2 linked regions of the Homo sapiens genome follow. The protein of the gene in region 2 purifies or fractionates together with the protein of the main gene of each other region. This does not show direct contact. Each region holds a gene or a part of one and is shown on either strand. Other genes may lie near its edges.

Region 1 (3,500 bases), on a different chromosome or scaffold from region 2:
TCGCCAGGTGGGAGTGCAGTGGCGCAATCTCGGCTTACTGCAACCTCCGCCTCCCGGGTTCAAGCGATTCTCCTGCCTCAGCCTCCCGAGTAGCTGGGACTACAGGCATGCACCACCACACCCAGCTAAGTTTTGTATTTTTAGTAGAAGCAGGGTTTCACCATGTTGGCCAGGATGGTCTCGATCTCTTGACCTCGTGATCTGCCCGCCTCGGCCTCCCAAAGTGCTGGGGTTACAGGCGTGAGCCACTGTACCCAGCAGAGGGTCCTATCTTACAGACAGGAAAACTGAGGCACAGAGATGTGGTCAGTTACCAGATGACAGAACAAGCTCTGCTCCCAGGCCATGTGGGTTGAGCTCATGCTCTGAACTGCAGCCCACGGACTCACTGGCTTCACAACTGGCTTCCCCGCTCAGCGCCAACAGGGCCGCCGGCACCAGGCCCGGCCCTAGGAGGCAGCGATTCACCTGAGTCCACCGCACTCCCAACCCTGGCGCCCTGAGCCAGGCTCTTGGCTGCACCTTAGGCTCTAGACACCCGCTGGGGTCTCAGCCTGTGGCAGCAACCCACTCCAGGAAGCCAGTGAGGACCCAGATGCATGCAGGCCTCCTCTCACCTTCCTCCCCACCACGCTGGGGCAGCGCCCCCTACAGACCACCTCACGCTTCAGCATGCATGTCCTCGGGAAGCCTCGCTCGAAGAACACACTCCTCCACCAGCACAGCTGCTGCACACACACTTCCCTCTGCGACTGTCCCAAAGGGAACCTGCCCATCCCTCTCATTTAGGAGACAACTTTTGGGGGCACCTGCCCAGTCAATATGACTCCCACCACCTTCCTCTGAGAACTGCTCTACTGCCACGCTCAGGTCCATGGGGCGAGGCCCCAGAAGCCAGTTCCTACTGCATAACCTGCCCCTCCCCAGGGCCATCACTAACATCCCCAGGCGGCAATCACTAAGACGGTGGTGACTGAAACTGGTTCTGGTTATTAGAAACTCGGTGAGCTGGCCGGGCGAGGGGGCTCACGCCTGTAATCCCAGCACTTTGGGAGGCCGAGGCGGGTGGACCATGAGGTCAAGAGATCGAGACCATCCTGACCAACATGGTGAAATCCCGTCTCTACTAAAAATACAAAAATTAGCGGGCGTGATGGCGCGTGCCTTAGTCCCACCTACTCGGGAGGCTGAGGCAGGAGAATCACTTGAACCTGGGAGGCTGAGGATGCAGTAAGTCGAGATGGCACCACTGCATTCCAGCCTGGTGACAAAGCGAGACTCCATCTCAAAAAAAAAAGAGAAGAAACACAGTGAGCCTTCACTAAGCACCCCTTGCTCTGAGCCACGGCTCCTCTGTCCTCGGTAACTCAGACTCCCTTGTCGTGCCCTCTCACTATCCAGACACCAAGGGGCTGCCTGCATCTTCCTCTCCTCTTCCACCTCTGCCACCTCCCCAGGGGACTTGGCAATCACGCCTGTTTACCTGGATTCTTGCATCTCCAGTGATCCCCTTCAATCACCCTCAGCTCCCCTCAAGCAGCCACACACCTGGCCTTGTCAATCCCAGAATGGCTCCGCCTTGGAGATTCCCCATCCTCTCCAACATTCCCCACTGTCCATTCAGTCTGCCCCACTGCACCTTCAACTTCCCATCCTTCAGTTTCCCTCTAGCACATCACCCTCTTCCCAACTTCCTCCTCCACCCTGCCCAGACCCCAGGGCCCGTACTTTGCCCTCTCCTGTCCCAGCACAGCCCCAGGTCCTCATCATTCCACCACACCTTTACCCTGTGGAGCCAGCCAGCAGCCTCTTCTCCCCTCACTCCCAGGCCCCAGCTCTGGCAAGGCCTTCCAGCATGGGGAGGCCCAGGCGAGAGGCTTGCTCTGTCTCCAGGATACAGTGCAGCGGCACAATCACTGTTTACTGCAGCCTCCTCAACCTCCTAGGCTCAAGCAATCCTCCCGACTCAGCCTCCCCAGAAGCTGGGACCACAGGCATGTGCCACTATGCCTGGCTTTTTTTGTTGTTGTTGTTAGCCAGACTGGTCTCGAACTTCTGGGCTCAAGAGATCCTCCTGCCTCGGCCTCCCAAAGTGCTGGGATTACATGTGTGAGCCACCGCGCCTGGACTGGAGCAACTTTTCTCCACTTTCCAAGGTTCTTACTCCACTCTTCCTCTCACAGTCCTACAGCAACAGGGTCAAAAGAGGACTCAGGCACAACACCCCCATCTCCCTGCCTCCCCACCGAAGGGTATAACTGCATCAGATCTGGAAGCTACTCCTCCACCTCCCCAAAAAGGCCATGCCAGCAAGCATTCCTCTCTCCCGGCACATCTACCTGGCCCGTTCCCTTCAGTGGAACATGCCCAAACCTCATCTACTTGGAAAAGCTAACCCCTCCCTCAACCCTGCCCTCTCTTCTTGCTCTCCCTCCAGCTCTGGCTGGTAACCTTAGTTTGTTCCTGCATCTCACTAAGCCTTGAAGCCCTCATCTATAAAATGGGAATCACAGGGAGGTTGTGGGGCAAGCGCAGTGGCTCACACCTGTAATCCCAGTACTTTGGGAGGCCAAAGTGGGCTGATAACTTGAGGTCAGGGGTTTGAGACCAGCCTGGGCAACATGGTGAGACCCTGTCTCAACTAAAAATACGAAAATTAGCCAGGCGTGGCAGTGTGCACCTGTAATCCCAGCTGCTTGGGAAGCTGAGGCAGGAGAATCACATGAACCCGGGAAGCGGAGGTTGCAGTGAGCCGAGATTGCACCACTGCACTCCCGGCTGGGTAACACAATGAGACTCCATCTCAAAAAAAAAAAAAAAAAAAAGGGAGAGGTTGTGGGGATTCAATGAGAAAATGAATTGTCAACATGCTATGCCTAGAGCCTGGCACACATAGGTACTTGACACATGGGAGCTGATATCACAACCCCCAATTCTTTTTTTTGAGACGAAGTCTCGCTCTGTCGCCCAGGCTGGAGTGCAGTGGTACAATTTCGGCTCACCGCAACCTCCACCTCCCAGGTTCAGGTGATTCTCCTGCCTCAGGCTCCTGAGCAGCTGGGATTACAGGCGCCTGCCAGCATGCATGGCTAATTTTTTTTTTTTTTTGGAGACAGTCTCGCTCTGTCACCAGGCTGGAGTGCAGTGGCACGATCTCGGCTCATGGCTACTTCTGCTTCCCCGGTTCAAGCGATTACTCCTGCCTCAGCCTCCCGAGTAGCTGGGATTACAGGCATGTGCCACTATGCCCAGCTAGTTTTTGTATTTTTAGTAGAGATGGGGTTTCACCATGTTGGTGCTGGCCAGGATGGTCTTGATCTCTTGACCTCGTGATCTGCCCGCCTCAGCCCTCCCAAGTGCTGGGATTACAGGCGTGAGCCACCGCACCCAGCCTAATTTTTGTATTTTTAGTTAAGATGGGGTTTCACCATGTTGGCTAGACTGGTCTCGAACTCCTGACGTCAAGTGATCTGCCCACCTCAGCCTCCCAAAGTGCTGGG
Region 2 (3,945 bases):
TCTTATCTCAGATATTTCACCCTATATTTGTGTCAATTCCCAACTCAGTCGTAACGGACAAAATGAAGGATTGTCATCATCATTAATAAGATCATTAGGCACCACAGGCCCAGCAAGCCTGGGCCACCACACTTAAATGTGAACAGGTACACCAGGTTGATTGGACAAGATCGTCTGTGCCTTTTACTTGGCAGAATCCATTGCAGTGACTCAGGATTTAACCTAAACACATTTAACTGAAACTCCTGCCCAGAGACCTCCACGTGCTGGAGAAGGCAGAGTAAACTGAGGAATGAATGCCCTCATTGTGCTGTGAGAGCAGACATGAAATTTATCACAGTACAACCGATGGTGGAAGGGCAAAAGTTGGTTTAGGTTGTGCACTGTATAGGGAGAAGCCAGGAGAAGGTTGGGTTTTTTCCAGATTTCAGTGTAAATTGTTTCATCCTCCAGACTTTGAATTTCTAGGCTGAAGAGTGCTAACCTGTTTTGGCCGCATCTCTCACTCATTCTAATGTCTGTATCAGCAAGACAAAATTTGAACTATGCGGCAAATTGTACCGAAGACTTTGCTCAAGATAATTGTGAATATGGAAGTTGTCCCGCGGGGAGGTGGGAAGGGGAAGGACATTTTCAGCAGAACTGCCAGCGCTATGGTGGTTTAATGCTGACACAGAGACAGTTTTTTCTCTCAGGAATTGTCTTTCATCCATCAGTCCAGCCAGCCAGCCAGCCAGCAAATTTTAACACACAGAAAGTACGAAGCAACATATCTAACACTGGGAGGGGCTGGGGTGTGTTTATTTGGGTATATACAATGAGTCATGGATTAAAATTGCTTCCAGCGGATAGATACCTAGGTGTTCCACAGCATTACTGAACAAGCTGTCGTCATTTCCCCATTACCTCAGAAGACCCCCTTAATTACTTACTTATATTAACTGTAGAACGTATTTATGCATACCAGGCTCTACCTCTGGGCTTTCTATTCTGTTCCAGAGACCCAGTACCAGAATATTTAAATCACTGTGGCGTTAAATACGTTTTAATATCTGATAGGGCCAGTTTCTGCGCATTGCACATTTTTTTTTCCCCTTTCAGGAACGTGTTCAGGCCCGCGGCAGGGGGCGGGATCGCGCCTCCTCCTCGGCTCTGGTTCCAGCCGAGCCTCTCGGACGCAGAGATGGAAATCCCGAAGCTGCTCCCGGCTCGCGGGACACTACAGGGCGGCGGCGGCGGCGGTATCCCCGCGGGTGGCGGCCGAGTCCACCGAGGCCCTGACTCGCCGGCTGGCCAGGTCCCCACGCGCCGCCTCCTGCTGCTCCGGGGCCCCCAAGATGGCGGGCCCGGGCGGCGGCGCGAGGAGGCCAGCACGGCATCACGGGGCCCTGGCCCAAGCCTGTTGGCGCCGAGGACCGATCAACCTAGCGGCGGCGGCGGCGGCGGCGGCGACGACTTCTTCCTGGTGCTGCTTGACCCGGTGGGTGGCGACGTGGAGACCGCGGGCTCCGGTCAGGCCGCAGGGCCTGTGTTGAGGGAGGAGGCCGAGGAGGGCCCGGGGCTCCAGGGGGGCGAGAGCGGCGCGAATCCCGCGGGGCCCACTGCGCTAGGCCCCCGCTGCCTGTCCGCGGTTCCCACTCCGGCCCCGATCTCCGCCCCCGGCCCCGCCGCGGCCTTCGCGGGCACAGTCACTATCCACAACCAGGACCTGCTGTTGCGCTTTGAGAACGGCGTCCTCACCCTGGCCACGCCCCCACCACACGCCTGGGAGCCAGGGGCCGCTCCTGCCCAGCAGCCCGGGTGTCTGATCGCCCCGCAAGCTGGGTTCCCGCATGCCGCGCACCCGGGTGACTGCCCAGAGCTGCCGCCAGACCTCCTGCTAGCTGAGCCGGCCGAACCCGCGCCAGCTCCGGCGCCTGAGGAGGAGGCGGAGGGCCCGGCCGCCGCCCTGGGCCCCCGCGGACCGCTGGGCTCCGGCCCAGGCGTGGTGCTGTACTTGTGCCCCGAGGCGCAGTGCGGGCAAACCTTCGCCAAGAAGCACCAGCTGAAGGTGCACCTGCTGACGCACAGCAGCAGCCAGGGCCAGAGGCCCTTCAAATGCCCCCTGGGTGGCTGCGGCTGGACCTTCACCACCTCTTACAAGCTCAAGAGGCACCTGCAGTCGCACGACAAACTGCGGCCCTTTGGCTGCCCGGCAGAGGGCTGTGGCAAGAGCTTCACCACAGTGTACAACCTCAAGGCGCACATGAAGGGCCATGAGCAGGAGAACTCATTCAAATGCGAGGTGTGCGAGGAGAGCTTCCCCACGCAGGCCAAACTCAGCGCCCACCAGCGCAGCCACTTCGAACCGGAGAGGCCTTACCAGTGCGCGTTTTCTGGCTGCAAGAAGACATTTATCACAGTGAGTGCTCTGTTTTCCCATAACCGCGCCCATTTCAGGGAACAGGAACTGTTTTCCTGCTCTTTTCCTGGCTGCAGCAAACAATATGACAAGGCTTGTAGGCTGAAAATTCACCTGCGGAGTCACACCGGCGAGAGACCTTTCCTTTGTGACTTTGATGGCTGTGGCTGGAACTTCACTAGCATGTCCAAACTCTTAAGGCACAAAAGAAAGCACGACGATGACCGGAGGTTCATGTGCCCTGTGGAAGGCTGTGGGAAATCTTTCACGAGGGCGGAACATCTGAAAGGCCACAGCATAACCCACCTGGGCACAAAGCCTTTCGTGTGTCCTGTGGCAGGCTGCTGTGCCAGGTTCTCTGCTCGCAGTAGCCTCTACATTCACTCCAAGAAACACCTGCAGGATGTGGACACTTGGAAAAGCCGTTGCCCGATCTCCTCTTGTAATAAACTCTTCACATCCAAGCACAGCATGAAGACGCACATGGTTAAAAGGCATAAGGTGGGCCAGGATCTCTTAGCTCAGCTAGAAGCAGCAAATTCTCTCACACCCAGCAGTGAACTTACCAGCCAGAGACAGAATGATCTCAGTGATGCAGAGATAGTGTCTCTCTTCTCTGATGTACCTGACAGTACTTCTGCTGCATTGCTGGACACAGCATTGGTGAACTCTGGAATCTTGACTATTGATGTGGCTTCTGTGAGCTCGACTCTGGCAGGGCACCTCCCTGCTAATAATAATAATTCCGTAGGGCAGGCTGTGGACCCTCCGTCCTTGATGGCCACCAGCGACCCTCCTCAAAGTCTGGATACCTCTCTCTTTTTTGGAACGGCGGCCACTGGTTTTCAGCAGAGCTCCTTAAATATGGATGAGGTCTCAAGTGTAAGTGTGGGGCCATTGGGATCTCTGGACTCTTTGGCCATGAAAAACTCCAGTCCAGAGCCTCAGGCTTTGACACCCAGCAGTAAGCTAACAGTGGACACAGATGCTCTGACTCCTTCGAGCACCCTTTGTGAAAACAGTGTCTCAGAACTACTGACACCAACCAAAGCGGAGTGGAACGTACATCCTGACTCTGACTTCTTTGGACAGGAGGGAGAAACCCAGTTTGGATTCCCCAATGCAGCAGGAAACCATGGTTCTCAGAAAGAAACAGATCTTATCACTGTGACTGGCAGCTCATTTTTGGTATGAACCAACTCTATTCATTCCTCATCATGTGGCTTACTTTTATTACAGTCAATTTTGAGGATATTCTGGACTAAATATTTAAGTGCAGTCATTTCTTTTTGGTTTGCAAAAAGAGCACAGCCCTGGACTACAAGTTTGGAGATTTAAATTCTGATCTTGAGTTTGGAACTGACAAGTTGTGTGACCCTGAGCAAGTCAGTTAACCTATCTGAGCCTTAATTTCCTTATTTATAAATTGAGGTGGTTTGAATAGATTGCTTTTAAGGTCTTTCTGCTCTGTGATTCCTTGATAATACATTTCTTTCCTTGAAAAATATGAGGACGTTTTTCAGTGATGTGGCATGCGTTTTTTT

The links. Proteins that work in one complex are often made in the same cells at the same time.
Region 1: the proteins of ZXDB (region 2) and SETD1A purify together in Homo sapiens (affinity purification with mass spectrometry; one large-scale study listed by BioGRID and IntAct). This does not show direct contact.

What each region holds. Positions count from the first base shown.
Region 1 is NC_000016.10:30,974,754-30,978,253, reverse strand, and holds part of SETD1A (histone-lysine N-methyltransferase SETD1A), read right to left. Parts: intron 1-3,500. UniProt on the Homo sapiens protein: Histone methyltransferase that catalyzes methyl group transfer from S-adenosyl-L-methionine to the epsilon-amino group of 'Lys-4' of histone H3 (H3K4) via a non-processive mechanism.
Region 2 is NC_000023.11:57,590,866-57,594,810, forward strand, and holds the start of ZXDB (zinc finger X-linked protein ZXDB), read left to right. Parts: upstream 1-1,145; 5' UTR 1,146-1,183; coding exon 1,184-3,595; 3' UTR 3,596-3,945. UniProt on the Homo sapiens protein: Cooperates with CIITA to promote transcription of MHC class I and MHC class II genes.